Linked DNA regions of Homo sapiens. The protein of the gene in region 2 binds, or shares a complex with, the protein of the main gene of each other region. Each region holds a gene or a part of one and is shown on either strand. Other genes may lie near its edges. The genes, in order: MAGEA3, DCAF12 and CCT5. A codon is read from its position in the direction of its gene.

Region 1 (7,472 bases), on a different chromosome or scaffold from region 2:
GGAGGCAGTGGAAACTAAGGGATGCGGCCCCGGAAGGTGCACTGGCCCAGACCCCCTCCCACTGGCCCTGGCTGCAACTCGTGCTCAGACTCACTCTTCCCCCTCTCTCAAAACCCACTCATGCAGGGGTGGGTAGGAAATGTGAGGTCCTCCACTGATCTTTACCATATGGTGCAGGACTTTCACATAGCTGGTTTCAACGAGGGCCCTTGGACCCCACAGGAATTCATAACATGCAGGATCACTGCCGGGGACCTGCCGGTACTCCAGGTAGTTTTCCTGCACGAAATGTTGGGTGAGCAGCTTCTTGGGATCCCCCAAGATACTGTCTTCCCTCCCCTCAAACACCTCTAACACACTCAGCTCCTCCCAGATTTTCTCCTCAGGGGCACAGTCGCCCTCTCTTGCGATTATGGCCAGGACGATTATCAGGAGGCCTGCCTTGGGCATGATCTGATTGTCACCCAGCAGGCCATCGTAGGAGAGGCCCAGGCAGGTGGCAAAGATGTACAAGTGGCCGATGGGGTCCACTTCCATCAGCTCGATGCCAAAGACCAGCTGCAAGGAACTGGAAGCTTTGCTGAAGATCACAGGAAAGAAATACTGCCAATTTCCGACGACACTCCCCAGCATTTCTGCCTTTGTGACCGGCTCCCTGGCTCGATACTTGAGGAGCAGAAAATGAACCAACTCGGCCACCTTCCTACTGAGTGCTGCTTGGAACTCGGACTCCAGGTCAGGGAAGGTGCTTGGCCCCTCCTCTTCTTGGTTGCTGGAGTCCTCATAGGATTGGCTCCAGAGAGGGTAGTTCATGGTAGTGGGGAGGCTGGAGGCTCCCTGAGGACTCTGGGGAGGATCTGGTGACTCGGCAGCAGGCACCTCCCCCAGGGTGACTTCAACTAGAGTAGAAGAGGAGGAGGCAGCCTCCTGCTCCTCAGTAGCAGGAGCCTGCGCACCCACCAGGCCCAGGGCCTCTCCTCGGGCCTCAAGGCCTTCTTCAGGCTTGCAGTGCTGACTCCTCTGCTCAAGAGGCATGATGACTCTGGTCAGGGCAACAGGCGGGAGTGTGGGCAGGAGCTGGGCAATGGAGACCCACTGGCCTGGGGAGAGAGGGAGCATGTGAGAGACCTCAGCTGAGTACTGAATGGAACCTTGGAGGCTCTAACAAAGGCTTACTTACAGATCTTCTCCTTCAGTGCTCCTCCGGGGGCCTCTGGTCCTCCAGGTCAGCCTGTCCCCTCAGAACCTGAAGGAGGAAGTGAGAGGGCACCTCAGGGTACATCCGGCCAGCGCATGCTGAGGCTGCAGGACTGAAAGTATTGAGGGTGAGGCCAGGCGCTCTGGAGTCCATGTGTTCTGGGGCAGGTGGGGCCCTTGGTTTGAATCCAAGGCAAACCTTCACCGTTGGCACTATCTGAGCCCCCTCTACTCTGTGACCTGAGGACACTGCCTCAGACCAAGTCCTCACTGCCTTGTTCCTGGAGCTCCTGATTCCTGGGAGAGGAATCCACGGGCCCCCAATGTGCAGACAGCAAACGCAGCCACGGATTCCCAGAACTGTCAGGAGGGTTGGCCAGACTCTGTGAGGTCCCCACTCTACTGGGGTGGAGGATCCCCTCTGTGCTCACTCAGGGCCCTCACCTTTCTCCTTATAGGGCCTAATCCCTCCCTTCTGCTGGCCTGAGAATCTCTCATGTCAAGAACTCACATACCTGATATGGTACAGAAAAACATGAGGGGACCCACATCTGGCCATACATTCCCAGGTCCTCCCGGAAAGGACAACGAGAGATGTCCAAATTTATTGAAGTCCATGTACCCTGGGTGAGGAGACTGCTTGGTCCTCACCTCCACTCCTAGTAGGGTCTGAGAGCCTCCCTCTACTGCCCTGAGTGCAGCCCCCTCAGACCAAGGCTTCCCCTTCCCTGACATCAGTGATCCTAGGATAATGGAGGGACCTCAGCTGACAGCCCTGCCCAGGCTCTCTGAGGTAACAGCAGGAGCAGGGCAGATTTTTATGGGGCCCCCAGTCCGCATTCTGTCCCAGGGGTACCCTCAATCCTCCCTCAGTCTCTTCACCTGGATGCTTGGCAGATCCTAGGACCACTGCATCTGTCCACCACATAGGGGCCCCTTGGGGGTACACCTTGGGCCCTGCAGATCCTGGGATTCCTCCCTCTGCTGACCTGAAGTCCCACTCTTCAGACCACAGCCCTCAACTCTCTGGTCACCCTGAAGGCGCAATGAGCACAGAGCACATTTGGCCACTGTGCCCAGCATCCCCCAGCCCAAGGTTGCCACTGATCTGGACTCCAAGGTCCCCTCAGTCCTCCCTCTTCTTCCTCCCCATGACTCCTCGCAGGGCTGGGCCCCAACCCCCTGCTGAAGTGGGTCTGCATCCCTAGGATTCCCGTAGCCGAATGAAAAGGTGCCTCGGTTTGAGACAGGGGTACAGTGGGCCCCCTGTCCTGGCATGCTGGGTCCCCTCAGGACTCCACTGTCTTCCAGGAGGGCCTGGGCCCTTTCGCTGCCTCCCAACGGCCATACTCGCGATACCGAACCCCTTCCCTCCCTTAGCCGTAGATGTGAACCTCAGGACTCACGTGCCTGGCCGCCATTCCCGGAGCTTCCGTGACTTGATACCAGGGGCAAAGCCCGGATTCTGCCAGGATAGGGGTGGGGGTGGGGATGGGAATGGGGAATGGGGGATGGGGGTGGGGTTGGTGTTGGGGGACGGGAATGGTGGTGAGGGTGGTGGTTAGGCTGCCCTCAGTTCCCTCTCGGGGTCCTGACCTTGATTCCTGCCACAGCGTGGGCCCTGACCTCTTCTAACCAGCCCTGCCCTGGCCACATTAAGCTCTGTCCCCAGAGTTCCCCGTGGCTAAAGCGGCGGGGGTCGGCGGGGTGAGGTAGTGGCGACCCAGCCTGGAAGTCTTCCCCTGCGGGGTGGCCCAGGCCCGGCAGCAGAGGCAGCACTGGATTATTTGAGGCCCTCTGTCTGAGGTGAGGCCCGCCTCAGTCCTCCCTCAGCGTCTTACCTTGCCTCCTCACCGAGCCTGGGCCGGCTTCCCTCCGCCGACGTCAGGCCGTCGCTCGTTGCTCAGGGCGAGAATCTCGCGGTCTTCTGACCTCCAATGCGCAAGTCAGTGGCGTCACATCCTGGCAACGGTACTACCCTGGGTTCCGGGCAGGGGTGGAACTGGATTCTGCCTGGATGGGGATCGGATGGGGGTGGAGGTAAGCATGAAGATGGTGATGGGGCAAGGGGTAAGGATTGGGACGGGGGTCCTGAGGCTGTAGATCCTGGTGGGGTCGGGGGAGTTGGGGGTGGGTGGGCGGGGCCTTCGGTCATCCCTCAGGGTCCTGAAGTTGATGCCTGGCTGAGCCTGGACCGCCATCCTCTGCAGATTGCTTCTGCTCCCCTCAGACCAAGTCTCTGACTCTGAGTCCCCCTGAAGTGGCATTGGGGGAAGGGGTGTGGTCTGGGTGACATCACTGCCTGCGTTTACCAGGGCTGACAAGAGGGGCTGAGCTGGATTCTGTGGTCCCTCTATGGTGTGTGGGGTGGGGGGGCGGTGTGGACCCTCAGTCCTCACTCAGGAGGGTCGTCTTCGTCACCTCTGGCTGTTGGATGAAGTGATGGGCAGGAGATGCTCTGTTTCTGTCACCTGTGAGCATTTGCACAGCTGCACCCCTTGTAGAGAATGCCTGCGGGTCCCAGGCCAGGTGCTCCCTGCAGGGCGGGGCGGCAGCTCCCGCGGTTGTAGTGACCTCCTATTTCAGTCTTTGTGTTCTGTTGAAAGAATTTTTTTTTTTTAAAAATGTAATTCCTCTGCCACTATGGTGGTTTCAGGTTGTTATTAGCAGAACTCTGGAGTCATACTGCCTTAACCAACCAAATTTTCCTGGTGTCCTGCTATTACCTAGGGCTCTTGGCATCGTGTTTTCAGAGGCTGCCTCAGATTGTGCAAAGAAGTGAAGTGGAAAATTTCAAACTTTTATTCTACCCATTCTGTCATCTACCGTGTAGGCCGGCTACAAACCTCCCCAACATCCCTGCTGCTAACCCCCTCCAACCAACACTGCAAGTGTCAAACACAAGTACCAGCTCAACACAGCCTTGAGTCTCACCCTGGGCTTTCCCTGTTTTGTTGCGTAGATTTTGTTGCTGATACTGGTTTTTTATTTACTGTTTCCATTCTGTAATTTTCCAGGTTTGATTTGGGAAGCAGAGCACAGCAGCCCAAATTTGTTGTAATGGCGGCGGCTACAGGTAAGGCACTAAATTGTAAATAATTTAAGCTGAGTTTACATTTTTACAGTGTTGTGCTCCCCATGAATGAATATGTTATACTCCTCTATGTATTTCAAGCTTTTTTTTACCTGAATATGTCAGTATACTTCGACAGTTGTCTCTATAAAGACCTTATACATTTTTATTAGACTTCTTTTCAGGCAATTCATGAATTTTGTTGCTATTGCAAATGGCATATTGTCTATTAATTGTTGTAGTTAGTTATTGCTTTCGTGAGGTGAAGATTTTGATTTTGCTGTAGTAATCTGTTGCACTCCTCGTTCTGAAGGCCGATGCACTTGAATATTCCACATACCTTTTCCTTTGAATTTTCAAGATCGATAATGGTATTATCACTAAACATTACATATTCTTCCAGTATTCATACCACTTACTCATTTTGGTACTTATAGCTCTTTGTGTCTCAATCCTGATTTCAATCGTAGAGATAATAGCCTACATCTACTTCTCGTTCCTGACGTGAATGATAATTATTCGAACGTTTTGCATTTAAGTATGTTTGCTGTTGATTTTAGGAAGTGCAATTTCTCTTTGAATATAGGTTAAATACTTTTTTTTTTTTTACCATGAACTCATATTAAATTTCTTTAAAAAGCTTTTTCTGTACCCGTTGACACAATCAAATTTTTTTCTCCTCCATTTTGTATGTAAGGAATTACAATGAAACCGTTTTTTTTTTTTCCCCTAATGTTAAACCGTATGTTATTTCCTTGGGCAGAGCCTGTTTATTTAATATGCTAGTAATTTACGTAGGATATTTGCTGCTATGTAAGGGAGCTTACTTAATGTGTGCTTTTTTTCCCATCAAGGGTGGGATGTGGTCCTCATCTGGTTTTTGAATCCAGGAGGGCTAGTCTGGAAGAATGAATTGAACAATTGTAAATATTTTGTATGTTCTAGAAGAGATGAGATAAGATGGTGGTTAGTTTTCCCTGATCATTTGGTAGAATTGGCCTCCAATACTGCCTAACCTGGAATGTTTGAAGGTGGCTTGAGCTTTGAACATTGTACAGTTTCAGTTTTTATAGTTTAATTAAAGTTTTCTTTTTCTTTTTGGATCAGTTTGGTTACTGGTTTATTTTATTTCTACAAAGTGGTCAGTTTCATTTAGGATTTCACTTTTAATGGCATATTTATTATAAAAAAAGTTTTACTAGGGAAAGCCTTCACACATACAGAATAATAGGAACTAATGTAATGAACCCAGGATACTAGATACCCAGCATGAACAACTTTAAATACACAGCAAATCTGGTTCCAGTTAGACACTTGCCTACCTGCACATCAGCTTCTGGAATAACGTGGAGCGAATCTAAGGCATTAGACCATTTCATCTCGAAATAACTCAATATGCATTTTTAAAAGATAAGGACGTTTTATTAAACAGAATCCCAATAGTTTTCATATCTGAAAAATTATATAAATGATTATCAAATATTCAACTATTTTACATGCTTATCTGGCCGACTTATACTTTATAAAAAACATATTTCTTTGATGGAGTACCCAAATATGGTAACTTTCCCGCCACTTGCTTCACTGTAGTGGTTTCATACATGTATAATACAGCTAGGTTTGTGTGTGTGTGTAACATTCTACATTCTGTCCCATGATTCTCCAACTTCTTAAGTTACTTTTAGACTTTACATACATTAAGCTTCACTCTTTGTGCTGTAAAGATCTATGGGTTTTGACAAATGCCTCGTGCCGTTGTCTTAGTCCCTTTGGGCTTCCATAACAAAAATAGTGTAGACTGGGTGGCTTATAAACAACACAACTTTATTTCTCACATTCTAGAGGTTGGGAAGTCCAAGATCAAGGTGCTGGCAGATTTCATGTCTGATGGAGACCTGCTCCCTAGTTCATAGACAGTTGCCTTTCCCCTATGTCCTCACATGGAAGAAGGGGCAAGGGATCTCTGTGGAGTCTATTTTATAAAAACACTGATCCCATTCATGAGGACTCTGCTCTCATGAACTAGTCATTCTCCAAATACCCCACCTTCTACCTAATACCATCACCTTGGTATTTCAGCAGATGAAGTTTGTGGGAACACAAATATTCAGATGAAAGCAAGCATGCATCCACCATTACAGTATTACCATACTAGTTTCACTGCCCTGATAAATCCCCTGTGCTTGTCAGATAACCCCCTTGGCTGCCACTGATAGGTGTTTCATCTTTATAATTTTGCCTTTTCCTGAATGTCATATAAATAGACTCGCATACTATGTAGCCTTTTTAGACTGGTTTCTTTCACCTAGCATAATGAACTGAAGAGTCATGTATAACTTTGTGTGGCTCAGAACTTATTCCTTTTCATTGAGGAGTAGTAGTATCATTGTCTGGTTGTACCATAGTGCGTGTGTATATATATATCCATCCACCAAATGAAATACATTTTGGATGCTTCTATTTTTGGTGATTATGAAATAATCTTTTGTATACAATCGTATACAAATTTTTATGTAGACGTAAGTTTTCACGTCAATTGGGTAAATTGATTATGACTGCTGAATCTTATGCTGTGTTCAGTTTTTTAAGAAAACGCCAAATTGTCTTCCAAAGTGGCTGTACCATGTTGCATTTCCACCAGCAATGAATGAGAGTTTCTGTTGCTCCACATCTTCCCTGGCAATTGATCTTGGTTTTCTTTTCTTTTTTTTTTTTTTTTTGCTTTTTTATGGATTTTGGACATTCTAATAGGTGTGTAGTGGTATCTCATTTTAGTACACAGTTATCTAATGAGAACGGATTCTCAGTACTTTTTTATGCTTATTTGCCATGTGTATATCTTCTTTTGTGAGGAGTGTGTTCAGATCTTTGCCTATTTTCATGTTTTTTCTGTCGTTGAACTTTAAGAATTCGTGTATGTTGTAGAGATATGTTCTTTATCACATATGTGTACCACCGATGTTTTCTGCTAGTCTGTGGCTTCTGTTTTCATTCTCTTAACATTGTCCTTTGAAGAGCACATGATGTTTATTTTAATAAAATCTACTTGGTAAATTTTTCTTTCATTGATCATGCTTTTGGTGTTGAATTTAAAAACTCACCACTGAACTCAAAGTTATGTGAATTTTCTCTTATGTTTTCTTATAGAGGGTTGTATAGTTTTTGCATTTTGCATTAGGTCTGTGATTTATATCGAGTTAAT
Region 2 (7,504 bases):
GAAAGAGGTAGGAATTAAGAGTAGGTTAAATTATTACTTATTATGCTCGCCTTCAAAATAGTGTCAATAAATTCAACAAGCAAGAGGCTATGATGATTAATTCAGTTTACAATTCAGTAATATTTGCTAGGCTAAACACTATGATGCACGTGCGGGGAGTGGAATGAACTCTTCCAAGCAGGAGACTCTTTTTCTACTCCAAGTGACAAGGATGACAGTTCTTAACCACGAGTGGGCAGCTGGAGAGACCAAGAAAAGGAAGTTCTGTGGAGGCCCGTTGCCACCACTTAGTTTTGAAAGGCTTCTGGGTAAGACAAGCGACTCCTCAACAGAAGAGGAAACGAAAGGTTGGCCCCAACCACCATGGTATTATTTCCTTCCTCAAAACTGTTTAAATTTTTGCCTATGTCCTTTATAAACAGACCAACCACCATGGTATTATTTCCTTCCTTAAAACTGTTTAAATTTTTGCCTATGTCCTTTATAAACAGACACTTCTCCTAGTACTTAAGACTTTCTTGATCTAGAGCAATCTTCTCTCTTTTAATGATCCAAAATGTGTTTCATTCCAGGGTCAATTTACTCACACATTATGACATTACTTGTCCATTCACACAGGGGAGGTGAAAACCGAGGGAGGGCTGGGCGTAATCATTTCCCACCCCTAGGCCCTAGGCCCTGCCTCTTTTCATTTGCCAGTCTTGTGACATCATGCTATTCGTGGACTCTATTCCAAACGTTTCTGCTCTTTGACTTATTTTATCCTGGCCTATAATTGGGTTGGTTACAAAGCTTACTGAGAAATTTTTCACTTCATTCATTTATAACTGTCTTTCTATTCACTCTTAAAAAGGCTACTTTCCAAAGAGCTAATGCTTATACCCTGAAATATACTACCAGACACACATTCCCTGCCTTCCTTATAGGAAACAGTTCATGTATTTCTCATATTTCAGTTTATACATTTTTAGATTCTGTTCACTAAAAAACAGCCAAGTGTGCTATTTTAAATACTTCGACATACGTTCTTAGGCTGTTTTCACTATTATGTATCCTGAATGATGCTCTAAGCATCATTATTTCTTAAATCTTTCCTTTGAGGCCTATGACTTAAAAACCAGCATAAAAATATGAGGCAAAAACAAACAAACAAACAAACAACCCTCTAGAAGCAGCACATCCAGAGAGGGCCTGAAGAAATACACTCCTTTGAGGACTTATCAGAAAAGAAATGTATGAGTGAAAAAAGGAACACGAAAAGAGGAAGAAGTCACCAACGGGAAAGAATGGAAAGGAGAGTAAGGCAAGTCCCTCCTAAAAGAAACAGACGGGAAAACTAGCAGAGGTTCTAGAGCAAGTGGAGCAATATATCCACGACCTAGGAGAGAGGTCACATCCCCCCAGGCACTTACCGTGTTGCATTTTGTGCCACACACCACTTGCCTATGATTCAACCACTGAGATGCAAACACTTTATTAAGGGTCCCAAGGTGAAACTCTCTCTCCTTCAGGAGACTGGGAAGTTGCTGTGCTGCATAACCATGCAACACTCGAGAGTAGCTGGTTTCATTCTGTAGCCTGACTTCCCGGTTCTTCAAGTAGTATACTAAGGATCTCTTCACAGGAGGAAGTCTTTTCCTTTTGTGAAGCGAGTGATCCCAGCCAAACTGTGGAAACAACATTAGAAATCAGGGCTTTGGCTACTCTTCTTCAGAACAGATCCTACTGTATTACAGAAATCACCAACTCATAACTCATACTGCAGAATTTACAAACAACACAAATACAAACACAAGAGAACAAGAATCTCAATCCAGAAAGTCGTTTAACTCTTCCAACATTAAAAAGATGTTGCTCACAGTCAAACTTACCAATGTGAATTACAAGGGCTGAAAGTCAAGGGAATGAATGCAGAATAGAACAGACTAAAAGGTTTACTAGACATTTTAGGAGTGAAAGATTGAAGGAAATGAGAGGTAGAGTGATTCCCATACCGACATGGGCTGCATCTCTACCCAGCCCCCTTCTCCCTCTCAGTCTGTACTCCCACTGGAGCACGGAAGATACAGTCCAAGGAGCCAGACCTGGCTCCCAGGTCTTCCAGGGATGCATCATCAATGACCGTTCCTCTGTCATCATGCCCGCGCTCCAGGCAGTTGCAGAATTCGAAAAATCAACCGCCAACGGGGTAGTAGGCCCCCGGGAAATCAGAGGCCATATCTATGTCCAAGAAGGCCTTCCCCTCCAAAGGGGGCGGCATAGAGATGATACCTGGGAACTGTTGTTTCTTTTGGGGTCCAAACGCCGAAAGGCCCAGCTCAGGGTTGGGTATACATATAGGGAGACTACTTCCTTCTTCCAGGAGGGACGCAATCATCCCAGCTTCCTAGGGCCCATGGAAGGTAGAGTTCACTCTACCAGAGTTTGTTTCCGATTCCCTTAACTTCGGTTTCCCCTTCCTCCAAAGCCAAGATTCTGGTTTCTTTTCAAGCCCTATCCACGAATGCAGGCCTCCCGCGGATTATGTCCCATTCCTGAGTTCCCCTTTGGCTCCTCACCGCCCTGGCCTATCTGCCCTCCAGTTAACGAGGGTCCAGTCCTGACCCTATAGGCCCTGAACCCATTCCTGTTTTGCCTCTGACTGCAGACCCTGGACCCCGATTCCCGTCGCAGGATCTGCGGACCCTAAGCCCATCTTGGTTCCTCAGCCTCACCACCCAGGTGCCGGCCTCTCAACCCTCACCTGCGGGCCCTGAGCGTCGCTCCCAGCTCCCGGCGAGGCGGGCGCTTTCCGCTTCCTGCTAACTACTTTCCGGGCCATAGTGGGCAGCGCCGCCGCGGCCCCGCAGCCACATGGGGCGGGGGAAGCGAAGGATAGCAGGACGGCGGGTCATATACTGGGCCCCGGGGCCGCGCACCTTAGTGCGCCCGGCCCGGAAAATGGCCCGGACCCGGAGCGGCAGCAGAAAAAAGATAGGCGGAAAGAAAGGAAAGAGAGAGGAAGGACTTGAGCCGGGAAAGGGAAGGGGAAGCGAGAATGAGCGGCTTTCCGACGGCAGAGCCTGCAAGGACGGCGAGCGGCTAGAACCAAAACACCCCCTCCCCCTTGCTCGCGCGCCGTCACCCTTGCGCAGCCGCACTTCGGATAGCGTCGCCACGGAAACACCGCCGGAACGAGATGGGCGGGATCTAGGGGTTGGAAGATAGTTCTCTGGTGTTTCCCGGCCGCCGCCAGGCCATTTTCAACGGTTGTTTGGCTACTGCTGGATGGAAGTGGACGAGCTGGGGCCAAGGGAATCTGGCTTCTGGCCGCCGACCTCCGACCCCAGCCCGCCTATCCGCAGGCACCCGGAAGTGAGGACCACCAGTGCTGCTGGGGGAAGGAATCCTCCCTAGTGCAGGCCTTAACCCGGTTACCTCCCATCTGGCACCAAACGTTTCCCTGAATCTGTCACAAACCGTGCCCTGGCTCCAAGGGCTGGACAGGGGGGTGGGGGGGTGGGGGGCAGGAACCGCTCCCACCCTCGAGGTGAAGTCCAGTCAGGAAGTCAGGGCAGTGTGGCCAGACTTTCCCACCACTGAGAACCTGCCCAGCACAACCAACCCAGGCCGCCCTACGAGTCTCTGGCTACCCTCTTCCCACCGCTGGGTAGCCCTGAGGCTCCATTCTCCGCTCTGTCTCCTCCTGATCCTTTCTCCTGTCCGAAATGCTTCAGCCCCTCAGTCAGTTTCAGCTCCTCAGTCACCTTCCCCTTACGGTGCAACTTCACCATTCCCTTTAGATTTCCATGACCTGCCATCTAAACCACATGGTCTTTTGTGCTTTATGAAGTAGTCATCACGCTGTAAACTTATCTGTAGCTGCCTGCCTCACTCTTGGATTCAGGTTGCGTCTCCATTAGGGCAGGTCGGGAATTCTGAACTACAGGAAAGAGAGTGGTCATTTTTGGCTTGCCAGTCCAGTTAGAGCTGGCATTGGCCTCCAAACAAGGGGGCTTCATCAGGATCACCCTTGCCAACATTTTTGGAAGATCCTGAAGGAATATGACTGCCAGCCTTCGCTTTCCTCAAGCAAACAAACCCTCTGAGGAAGCAGGATGCTCTTGCTTGGGGCTGATTGGCCTCAGGCTGTGGTGCCCAGTTACCTGCTGGTCACTTCAGGCTTCAGGCCTCAGGCCTCATACCTCCAAGGAGCTCTGTTGGACCATCTCAAGTTCTGTCAACAAGGAGATTTGGATTTGTTTTCCAAGCCGAATCAAAGACCAGATTGAAGCAGGGTCTCCTGCCATCCCAAGTCGGCACTACCACTAACCCCTAATGTCTTGCGAAAGGCAGCTCCATCTTATTTGGTCAGGCCTGTCCCTTTAGAGATATGCACATAGTGAGTGGGTCAGGAGTGGGTCAGCTTTCTTTTTTGAGTCTGTTCTAATTCTGTCTTGCCCCGCAATGCTCTGGATGACCCAAGAGCCCCTGGGCAAGAGTCTGGAATCCTTTGAGAATCTCTAGGCTCAGATTGGGCTGTCAGTGCCAAGAGGGGCACACTGGGCACTGCTGCAGTCTCTTTCTCAAAGTTCCTTTACTTCATCTTCACAACCTAGGAACCATCCCCAAATGTACCTTATAGCAGAGCTCGCGATTTCTTTTCTTTTTTTTTTTTTGAGATGGAGTCTCACTCTGTAGCCTAGGCTGGAGTGCAGTGGCACGATCTCGGCTCACTGCAACCTCTGCCTCCTGGGTTCAAGTGATTCTCCTACCTCAGCCTCCTGAGTAGCTCAGATTACAGGTGCTCGCCACGTTGCCCAGCTAATTTTTTTTTTTCTTTTTTGAGACGGAGTCTCGCTCTGTCGCCCAGGATGGAGTGCAGTGGTGCGATCTCGGCTCACTGCAGGCTCCGCCTCCTGGGTTCACGCCATTCTCCTGGCTCAGCTTCCCGAATAGCTGAGACTACAGGCGCCCGCCACCACGCCTGGCTAATTTTTTGTATTTTTAGTAGAGACGGGGTTTCACCATGTTAGCCAGGATGGTTGCCCACTAATTTTTGTATTTTTAGTAGAGACGGGGTTTCACCATGTTAGCCAGGATGGTTGCCCACTAATTTTTGTATTTTCAGTAGAGATGGGGTTTCGCCATGTTGGCCAGGCTGGTCTCAAAATCCTGACCTCAGGTGATCCGCCCACTTCGGCCTCCCAAAGTGCTAGGATTACAGGCATGAGCCACCACGGCTGGCCAAGAGCTCACCATTTCTATTCAAATAACAGAATGAAAGTCCATTTTGGAAATTTAATTGACAATTGCCTTTAAAAGACTGCAGGCCAGGTGCGGTGGCTCACGCCTGTAATCCCAGCACACTGGGAGGCCGAGTTGGGCCAATCACCTGAGGTCAGGAGTTCGAGACCAGCCTCCTGAGTAGCTGGGTTGCAGTGAGCTGAGATCATGCCACTGGACTCCAGCCAGGGTGACAGAGCAAGACCCTGTGTAAAAAATAAAATAATAAAATAATAATGATAACAATAATAAAGTAGTAGAGTGGCTGGGGGAAAAAGTACTCAGGGCATGTAACTACTCCAAGAATGGCATTCTTAGTGAGCCTCACTGCTGAAACTGCGTGCTATAATCTGAAAGCAGTTTTATCTAATAGCTGTTAAAACAACCTACTGTGACTCTCAGAAATAGTTTTACTTATTGCCTTCACTTACCAATCAAAACTTGCCAGCTCTCCAAAACCTTACTAGTGCCAGTGAACTTTCTTGAAGAGCAATACATAACACTTCCTTTTTACAAAACTTCCAACCTTCTCTTTGTTCTGCAGACATGGCAAAGACCACCCAGTCTGCGTGTGCCCTGAATTACAATTCCTGCTTCACAAAACATTTTAATTTTAGAGATTCATCTATATATTTTATTTCACCTTGACAAAACTGTGTGAATGAATTTTATAATATTGCATAAAAGATATCAGGCCAGGCGTGGTGGCTTACACCTGTAATCCCATCACTTTGGGATGCCAAGGCGGGTGGATCACCTTAGGTCAGGAGTTTGAGACCAGCCTGGCCAACATGGTGAAACCCCCTCTCTACTAAAAATACACAAATTAGCTGGGCATGGTGGTGCCCGCCAGTAGTCCCAGCTACTCAGGAGGCTGAGGCAGGAGAATCGCTTGAACCCAGGAGACCAAGGCTTCAGTAAGCCGAGATCGAGCCACTGCACTCCAGCCTGGGCAACAGAATGAGTTTCCGTTTCAAAAAAAGAAAAGAAAAGAAAAAAAAATCAAACACACTGCTGGGCACGGGGCTCACCCCTGTAATCCTAGCACTTTGGGAGGCTGAGGCAGGTAGATTGCTTGAACTCAGGAGTTTGAGACCAGCATGGGCAACATGGGAAAATCCTGTCTCTATAGAAACATACAAAAATTAGCTGGGTGGGGTGGCATGTACCTGTAGTCCCAGCTACTTGGGAGTTGGCAGGCTGAGGTGGGAGGATAGCTTGAGCCCAGAAGGTGGAGGTTGCAGGTGGAGAGCCAATATCATGCCACTGCACTCCAGCCTGGGAGATCCAGACCTGTCTCCAAAAAAGTCAAACACAAAGCAGTAATTCCTTTTTTTATTTTTATTTTTTGAGGGACAAGTTCTCGCTTTGTTGCCCAGGCTGGAGTGCAGTGGCATGGCATGCATGTGCCACCACACCCAGCTTATTTTTTATCTTTTGTAGAGACAGGGTCTCGCCTGGTTGCCCAGGCTGGTCTTAAACTCCTGGGCTTAAGCGATCCTCCCACCTTGGCCTCCCAAAGTGCTGGTATTACAGGTATGAGACACTGAGGCCAACCAAAGCAGTAATTCCTAAATGTAATTAGTAAATGCCTAATTTCATGTTTTTGAAGTATGAAAACAGGCACAACTGATCCATGGTAAGAGAAATCAGTCATTACCCTTAAGCGGGATTACTAACTGGCAGGGGACCTCAGGGAGCCTTCTGAGGTTCTGGAAATTTCTTTTTTTTCTTTTTGAGACAGAGTCTCATTCTCCCACCCAGGCTGGGGTGCAGTGGCACGATCTCAGCTCACTGCAACCTCTGCCTTCCGGGTTCAAGCAATTCTCCTGCCTCAGCCTCCCAAGTAGCTGGGACTACAGGCCTGCGCCACCACACCTGGCTAATTTTTGTATTTTTGGTAGAGATAGGGTTTCACCGTGTTGGCCAGGCTGGTCTCAAACTCCTGACCTCAGGTCATCCACCCACCTCGGCTTCCCAAAGTGCTGGGGTTACAGGCATCAGCCACCATGCCTAGCCTGGAAATTTCTTTCATTTTTCTTTTCTTTTCTTTTTTTTTTTTTTTTTTTTTTGTGAGACAGTCTCGCTTCATTGCCCAGGCTGGGTGCAATGGTGCAATCTCAGCTCACTGCAACCTCTGCCTCCTGAGTTCAAGCGATTCTCCTGCCTGAGCCTCCTGAGTAGCTGGGATTACAGGTGCCCACCACCTCGCCTGGCTAATGTTTTTGTATTTTTAGTA
Region 3 (7,609 bases), on a different chromosome or scaffold from region 2:
TTTTGCAATAATACTATCCTCATAGGATTCTTGGAACAGGTAAATAATGTAAACAAAGCATTTAGCACAAGCCTGAGAGGCTAAGTAATGACTATTAATTGCTATTATTATTCTCAATACTATCATATGCAAGGAGGGGCTCAATTTTTAACAGCTTTGAGATATAATTCATATACATACAATTTGCCTGCTTAAAGTATATAATTTAATGTTTCTTTTTATATTCAGATACATGCAACCATCACTACAGTCAATTTTTGAACATTTTTATTACCTCAAGAGGAAACCCCTTATCCTTTAGCTATCACCCCCGCATCCACCCTCTATCCCCCAGCCCTAAGCAACCACTAATCTACTTTTTGTCTCAAGAATCCCCTATTCTGGGGCCTGGCACAGTGGCTCACGCCTGCAATCCCAGCACTTTGGGAGGCCGAGGTGGGCGGATCACTTGAGGTCAGGAGTTCCAGACCAGCCTGGCCAATATTGTGAAACAACAACTCTACTAAAATACCAAAAAAAAATTAGCCAGGCATGGTGGTGCACACCTGTAATCCCAGCTACTTGGGAGGCTGGGGGCAAGAGAATCACCTGAACCGGGGAGGCAGAGGTTACAGTGAGCCAAGGAGCCAAAATTGCACCACTGCACTCCAGCCTGGGAGACAGAACAAGACCCTGTCTCTCAAAAAAAAGAAAGAAAAAAAAAAAAAAAGAATCCCCTATTCTGGACTTAAAGGAATGGAATTGTATAGTGTGTGGACTTCTGTAACTGACATTTTTTACTTAGCATGTCTTCAAGATTCATCCAGGTTGCAACTTGTATCAGTTCTTTATTTCTTTTTATGGCTTAATAATATTCCATTGTATGGATATGCCATATTTTTGCTTACGCATTTGTTCACCAAGTTTATTAAACAAACACAAGTCAGATGACCCAAATTTCATTTTTCACCTGTGTAGATATGTACCTTTCAATTCAACCAGCAAAAGATGTAATAAAAAGTTCCTGTTCTTCACGGCCTCCCATCTAGGCAGATGAGGGGTGGGGTCCAGGAGAGGCAGACACAGGGCTGGTTGTGAGAAATGCTATAACACAAACAAAACGCTACAGGCATATGGGAGAGGCGGAGGAAAGACTGATTCCAACAATGGGACCAGTGAGGTGTTGGCAGAGAGAATATTTGAGCTGGAGCCAAAAGCAGCAAGCCTTGGAACCAAGGTGTGGAAGGCAGGGAAAGCCTTTCTGGAGCACAGAGTGAGAGACAAACAGGAAGGCAGGCCTCTGAAGGCCAGGCTGAATGTGTATTTTATTCTATGTGCACTGTGATGAAACTTTTTGAGCAAAGTCACCATAATATTTGTGTTTTTAAGAAAGGCAACACAGGGGCAATGAGTCTCTTGATGAAATCATTCTATTTTCTGTCCCAGGTTTTGATGCCTGCAAGTCTTGCAACGTAACAAACATTTGCATGGGGAAATCAAGATCCATACCCATTGCTGGAGCTTTGGAAGAAGTTACTATGTACATCCAATATAGGATGTACAATATAGGAACTACATTGTTAGCTCCATTCAGGAAAAACAATTGATTCCTTTTTGCGATGGGGTCTCACTCTGTCGTCCAGGCTGGAGTGCAGTAGCACAATCACAGCTCACCACAGCCTTGACCTCTCAGGCTCAAACGATCCTCCCACTTCAGCCTCCCAGGTAGCTGGGACTACAGGCACATGCCACCACACCCAGCTAATTTTTTAAATTTTTTTCTTTAGAGACAGGGTCTCCCTATGTTGCCCAGGCTGGTCTCAAACTCCTGGGCTCAAGCAATTCTCTCGCCTCAGCCTCCTAAAGTGCCTCCATGCCAGGACCTGTATTGATTCTTATCAGTAAAAATCAGGCCCTGAATATTCAAAACTAAAATCAAGACTGTTTCTACAAATCCTTCTAACGGAACATGTTCAGACTCCCAGACTATCCTATATATAAATGGCAAGAACTTTCTTTCAGGTGTTCTTTGGAACAAGGAGCCATTCTATTAAATAATGGCTGCAGTGGCCACTGGCTACTTTCATTGAGCACTTAGTAGTCCATCCTTTAAAGTCAAACACAGAATGAGGTTAACTTCTACTGTGTCCGGGCCCTGCTTGCTTATTGACTTCTAATATTGGTTGAAAACTTCAATTTTTAGTGGCAGATTTGGATCAGCTGAAGCTAGAGGCAGTGACAGATGTACAATAAGGTACCCAAGGTTCTTATCCAAGTTCAAGCCAAAAGAAAAAGGCCAAGAAGAGAGAAGGAGCCTGTTAGGAATAGTAACTAGCCACGTGTTTAAAGCGGGCTTATATCAGAATGTCACAACTCATAAGGACTGTTCATTGTGCACTTGTATGTGCATACCTGTTTAATAACTACAGCATATGTTATGTCCCTTTAGCATATATTCTTATGTCCTTAAGAAGCCTTTCTTATACTAGTCTAATGTCATTTGTGTCCTTTTGACATACATGAGCTATTGATATTAGGAAAAATCCTCTCTCACTCCCCAGTGTTTTGACAGGGAATCAACTACACAGAGGATGCCATAGGACATTCTATTTTTCACAACAATCGAAGGAGCCAAATGAATTGCAGAAGTCACCATTTTTAATGAGGAAACACTGAATTGGCAAAGCTAACGTGAAATAAGACCTGACTCCAAAATCTAAAATGTCCTTGAAGAACACTTCAAGGTCTAGCGCGTAAGTATGCCAAGCATGAAGAGTTAACAGATCACCAACCATCCCATGACAGTCAGTCCTCCCTGTTTTTAGAGACAGAATCTCGCTCTGTCGCCCAGGATGGAGTGCAGTGGCGCGATTATAGCGCACTGTAAACTGAACTCCTGGGCTCCACCCATCCTCCTGCCTCAGCCCCAGAGTAGATGGGAACACAGTCGCCAAGTCTGTTCTTGAGTTTCAGGACAGGGTCAAATGTTATAGTGCATGTATTCATTTCAGCACTTATTGAGTGCCTAATAAAGTCTGGGAATAATACAACTTTATTAGTTAAGTCCCTGCCCATGGCAGTAGGGGAGAAGCAAGGATGGAAACCCTCAACAAATAAATCTAAACCTATCAAATATTAAGTCATGATCTTGGAGGGCGGGGAGGAAGGCAGCATAAGAGATTTAGAGGACAGCTGCGGTTGCCAAGATCTTTCTGAGGCAGCATAATACAGGGCTTAAGAGTGAGACCTGCCGGGCACCGCGGTGGCTCAGGCCCAACACTTGGGGAGACCTAGACGGGTACATCACTTGAGGTCAGCCGTTCGAGACCAGCCTGGCCACTACGGCGTTAACACCGTCTCTACTAAAAATACAAAAATTAGCGAGCGTGGTGGTTCTGTGCCTGTAGTCCCAGCTGCCTGGGAGGCTGAGGCACGAGAATCACTGGAACCCGGGAGGCGGAGGCTGCAGTGAGCCGAGACCGCGCCACTGCACTCCAGCCCGGGCTACAGTCTTGTCTCAAAAAAAAAAAAAAAAAAAAAGAGTGTGGGACCCATTGCATCAGGCTGTGTAACTGTTTCTTACTAGCTGTATACCAGTGGCAAGTTACTGAACCATTTGTGCAAAATGTTAATTTATTTACCAACACTGTGTTCAGCTTGCCAGGCACCGTTCTCCTTGAATCTCACAGCAGCCCTGTGAGTAGGCACTACTGTTACCACCGTCACTTTGCAGACAGGGAACCCGAGGGACAAAGAAGTTAAGGGATTTCCTCAAAGCCACAGCTAGGAAGAGCGGCAGAACTGCGATTCCAATCCATCAGTGTGCCTCCACTATCCCTATTCCTTAAGATCGTGCCAAAGGCTGAGTCACTTGCACTAAGTAGCCTAGAACAGTCTCTGGGGAAACGCGCCCGCCGACAAGGATCGCCAGAACCGGCGCGGGCACCGCGCGGCGACCAGGAGCTCTGGTCACCGAAGGCCAGGCTGGAGGCCAGAGCAGCCGCCCGCACCCGGTCACCGCCTCGACAGTGGAGACCTCAGCTGACCGCGAGCCCCCGGCCCGCCCGCACCCCTTCTCATGCCCCCAGGAACCCGCCAAGCCGCTCCAGCCTCACCTCCTCCTCCCTCCATCGCGAGATTTCCAACAGCGTTTTTAAAAAAAAAAAAAAAAAAAAAAAAAAAAAAAAAAAAACCGGAAATGGGTCCTACCATCTTCTCGGAGCCGGAGTGCGAAGAAATAAAGAAATAGTGCTTTAAGTCAATGAATTCCTCCTTGGGACCCACTATCGAGAAACTATCAGTGGTAACGTTTTAAAAAATGACAAATTCAATCTGCTCTTGACTTGTGTGTCCTAAGATTTCCACTAAGTGTCTTCAAACCTCCCCCTCCCCGGCTTCCTGGATAATAGAAGTTCCCGAAGGCCGCCGATTCCAGAAGATACTGTCTGGCGTGAAATTAGTCTCAGTAGAAACATAAGTCCCGCGCGTCTTGTGCTGCGCGTGCGCAAGCTTTTGGGCCCTCCCGAGAAAGGGAAGTGCATTCTCGCTTCCGTAGCGGTCTCCGCCGGTTGGGGGGAAGTAATTCCGGTTGTTGCACCATGGCGTCCATGGGGACCCTCGCCTTCGATGAATATGGGCGCCCTTTCCTCATCATCAAGGATCAGGACCGCAAGTCCCGTCTTATGGGACTTGAGGCCCTCAAGGTAATGGCACAGGGACCTGCTCGCGGTGGGCTAAGGGGAGGTGGCCGAGGCCGTGGCTCTGCGCCTGCGCGAGTTGAGGAGCGGCTCTGCCATGTGCTCCCCGGAAAGGTCGAGAATCTCCGTCTCCCTGCGGTCTCCGGCCGCTCAGCCCGCTTACTGAGCTCGGGAGACGCCGGCGCCTAATCCTGGGCTCGGAATGTGGGGGCCAGCCAGGCTGGGCCGCCAGCGCCCTTCGGAGCTGGGTGGGGCCGCTCAGTCCGGTCGCCCGCGGGAGCAAAGCGGGACCGCCTCCCCGCCCGGCTCCTCCAGCCTGACGGCCGCGTGGGACTGCGCTCCAGTGGGAGGGCGCCGGGGAGATGCTCTGTCACCTGTCGGTTAAGGCGCTGCTGCTTAACCTTTCGCTGGTCCACCCGCAACGGCCCTTCCGTTTTCTTTGTCACTCGTAAAGGTGTGGTCACTTAACAGGGTATTTCATTTCTGAGTGCTTTTTTGCCCACCCTTGAGGAAAAATAGCGAAGAGTGAAAAACGGACGCACATAACCGTAATACAAGGTGGTGTGCAGTGAGAAGGACAGCTACGGAGAGGGTGCACATAAGCGTGGTGCTGGAGGACAGCTTTAGATCGGGGTGAGAGGTAGCATTCTAGGGAGAGGAAACGGTAGAAGTAAAGGCTTGGGCAAGAATGCGCATGGCACGTTGTAGAATGGAAGAGCCATCCGGTTTTAATGGAGCACTGACTTCTTTAACTTACAATAGTTCCCGAAGGTGGAAGCTATTGAATGCCCAACATGGAAAATACGACGTTATCTTTGGGGAAGAAGGGGAGCCATTGAGGGGGTTTTGAGCAGAATTTCAGTAGAGCTGCACTTCAGGCAGCAAAGCTTGAGATAGACCGAAGGGAATAAGGAAGACCAGAGGGGTTAAAGAAACCAGGGCAGGGGTGCAGGTAAGAAACATCTGAGCACCAGACGTTGACAGAAAATGCAGAGGAAGGGACACTCCGAGAGGGCCTTCAGGGTTTGTTATAAAGTGAATTCATAATAGACCATTCCACTAGGTCTCTCAGGTGTCCCTGTTCACTTAGTGTCTTGGAGGTTTACTTACGCAAAGTTAGAAACAATACAGTTCCCCTATGGACTCTTTGTTTGACTTAGTGCTAGTTACACAACCTCGCGGAACCTCCTTTTCCAGGGGGAGGTGATAGGCCTCCGTCAAGCTGAAGACTTGACAGTGATATTAAATGGAGTGACTTAGAGGGGCTGCACAGTGGTTGATCCACGGTAGGCACTCAGTATTTGTTTCCTTTCTAGAAAGAAAAAGTTTCAAGCTAATTGTATTATGTATTCCATTTTATTTTCCACTTAACAGGGACCTGCAGAGAAAATAACATCCAATACACACACCTGGTGTAACAACATAACTAAAACTAGGTTGTTTTGCATCAGCCATTTTGTTCAAACTGCATGCATTTGTGCCCAGAAGTCGCACACTCTGAGACAGGGTTATTTTACAAAACTGGGGACTTGGGCCCAGAGCAGTTGAGAAATTGTTCTGAAGAGCAGTTGCTACTAAAGAGCATTACCATGGTCAGGGCCACCGCTGTCAGAGTCAAAGCCAGTGGTCTAGAGCAGCATTCTCAAGTTTGGCATATTGACATTCGAGGTCGGATCATTCTTTGCTGTGGGAGCTCATTTGGACAGTAACCTGGGTGTTTAAGTCTCTTAAAAGAGTTGGATGCTGTTGGTAGGCATCCTGTGAGTGTTGAGGCTCAGCAGTTTAGGGATATACACTTGCTCCCTGACCTCATAGAACGTCCAGCTAACTTGAAGAACCAAAATATATGGAAATTGAAGGCAACGGTAAAAGAAATGTATAGGCCAGGACGTGAACGTTTTAATGGTAATGGTCACAGTTCTTTCTCTCTGGTCATTTAGAGCCTTAAAGGTAATATGTATTTTGTTGAGATTCTTCACTTGTTTAACACTTAACTGTATAATATTTCACCTTAAAAATGCAGGCATTGACTGGGCGCGGTGGCTCACGCCTGTAATCCCAGAACTTTGGGAGGCTGAGGCAGGAGAATCGCTGGAACCTGGGAGGCAGAGGTTGCGGTGAGCCGAGATCACGCCACTGCACTCCAGCCTGGGTGACAGAGTGAGACTCCGTCTCAAAAAAAAAAAAAAAAAGGTGCAGGCATTAGTTGGCTTAGGAAGGAATCATATTCTAAAATCCTGTAACCTAAAACAGAGCAGGCTAAGTTTCCAGGCCAGCCAGCATAATTCTGTTTTATCCATAATATGTATTATGCCTTGATGTTTGATACTCTTCCCTCTGGAAACACACAGAACTAGCAGAAGGAAGAAAAAGGTTTTTTCCACGTTGCCGAGCAGTAGGGCAAAATAGATCTCGGGATTTCGGGATCTCTCCTATTTGCCAAATTCTTTACATCCTTTTCTTTCTGCCTCTTGCTTTCTCCTTAAAAATAATAATAATAATAATTCTATTACTCAATTTGGTAGCTAAATGTGAAAAAAAAAACAGGTAACTTTTTTATTATCACTTTGACAGCTACTTACCTTCCTTAAGAGGGCCAGTTTCAGCCGGGCGTGGTTGCTCAAACCTGTAATCCTGGCACTTTGGGCAGCCAAGGCAGGTGGATCACCTGAGGTCAGGAGTTAAAGACCAGCCTGGCCAACATGGCAAAACCCTATCTCTACTGAAAATACAAAAAAAAATGAGCAGGGCGTCATGGCGCGTGCCTGTAATCCCAGCTACTGGGGGGCTGAGGCAGGAGGATCGCTTAAACCCGGGAGGCGGAGGTTGCAGTGAGCTGAGATCATGCCACTGCACTCCAGCCTTTTTGAGACACAGCAAGACTGTCTCAAAAAAAAAAAGGCCAGTCAGTAACTTTGATCTATAAATATAAT

Evidence for each region.
Region 1: the proteins of DCAF12 (region 2) and MAGEA3 are in contact, whole or in part, in a cryo-EM structure (PDB 8T9A), measured with the Homo sapiens proteins. Residues at the interface, in NP_056212.1 of Homo sapiens: Lys91 (codon at 1,475), Phe93 (codon at 1,469), Lys108 (codon at 1,424), Cys141, His144, Phe188, Arg203, Arg256, Val300, Arg344, Tyr410, Phe411, Tyr422, Leu440, Pro441, Ser442, Gly443; in NP_005353.1 of Homo sapiens: Arg310 (codon at 108), Glu311 (codon at 105), Gly312 (codon at 102), Glu313 (codon at 99), Glu314 (codon at 96).
Region 3: the proteins of DCAF12 (region 2) and CCT5 are in contact, whole or in part, in a cryo-EM structure (PDB 8AJM), measured with the Homo sapiens proteins. Residues at the interface, in NP_056212.1 of Homo sapiens: Lys91 (codon at 1,475), Phe93 (codon at 1,469), Lys108 (codon at 1,424), His144, Trp186, Phe188, Arg203, Lys254, Arg256, Glu298, Val300, Arg344, Phe411, Tyr422, Leu440, Pro441, Ser442, Gly443; in NP_036205.1 of Homo sapiens: Gly537, Glu538, Ser539, Glu540, Glu541.

What each region holds. Positions count from the first base shown.
Region 1 is NC_000023.11:152,694,396-152,701,867, reverse strand, and holds the start of MAGEA3 (melanoma-associated antigen 3), read right to left. Parts: upstream 3,075-7,472; 5' UTR 3,039-3,074; exon of another isoform or gene 2,794-3,038; intron 2,663-2,793; exon of another isoform or gene 2,604-2,662; intron 2,563-2,603; exon of another isoform or gene 2,080-2,562; intron 1,311-2,079; exon of another isoform or gene 1,247-1,310; 5' UTR 1,181-1,246; intron 1,101-1,180; 5' UTR 1,036-1,100; coding exon 91-1,035; 3' UTR 1-90. UniProt on the Homo sapiens protein: Activator of ubiquitin ligase activity of RING-type zinc finger-containing E3 ubiquitin-protein ligases that acts as a repressor of autophagy. May enhance ubiquitin ligase activity of TRIM28 and stimulate p53/TP53 ubiquitination by TRIM28.
Region 2 is NC_000009.12:34,123,611-34,131,114, forward strand, and holds the start of DCAF12 (DDB1- and CUL4-associated factor 12), read right to left. Parts: upstream 3,089-7,504; 5' UTR 2,822-3,088; coding exon 2,744-2,821; intron 1,668-2,743; coding exon 1,413-1,667; intron 1-1,412. UniProt on the Homo sapiens protein: Substrate-recognition component of a DCX (DDB1-CUL4-X-box) E3 ubiquitin-protein ligase complex of the DesCEND (destruction via C-end degrons) pathway, which recognizes a C-degron located at the extreme C terminus of target proteins, leading to their ubiquitination and degradation.
Region 3 is NC_000005.10:10,245,764-10,253,372, forward strand, and holds the start of CCT5 (T-complex protein 1 subunit epsilon), read left to right. Parts: upstream 1-4,516; 5' UTR 4,517-4,577; coding exon 4,578-4,682; intron 4,683-4,773; exon of another isoform or gene 4,774-5,130; intron 5,131-7,609. Other genes in the region: ATPSCKMT (ATP synthase subunit C lysine N-methyltransferase), read right to left, coding at 4,095-4,110. UniProt on the Homo sapiens protein: Component of the chaperonin-containing T-complex (TRiC), a molecular chaperone complex that assists the folding of actin, tubulin and other proteins upon ATP hydrolysis.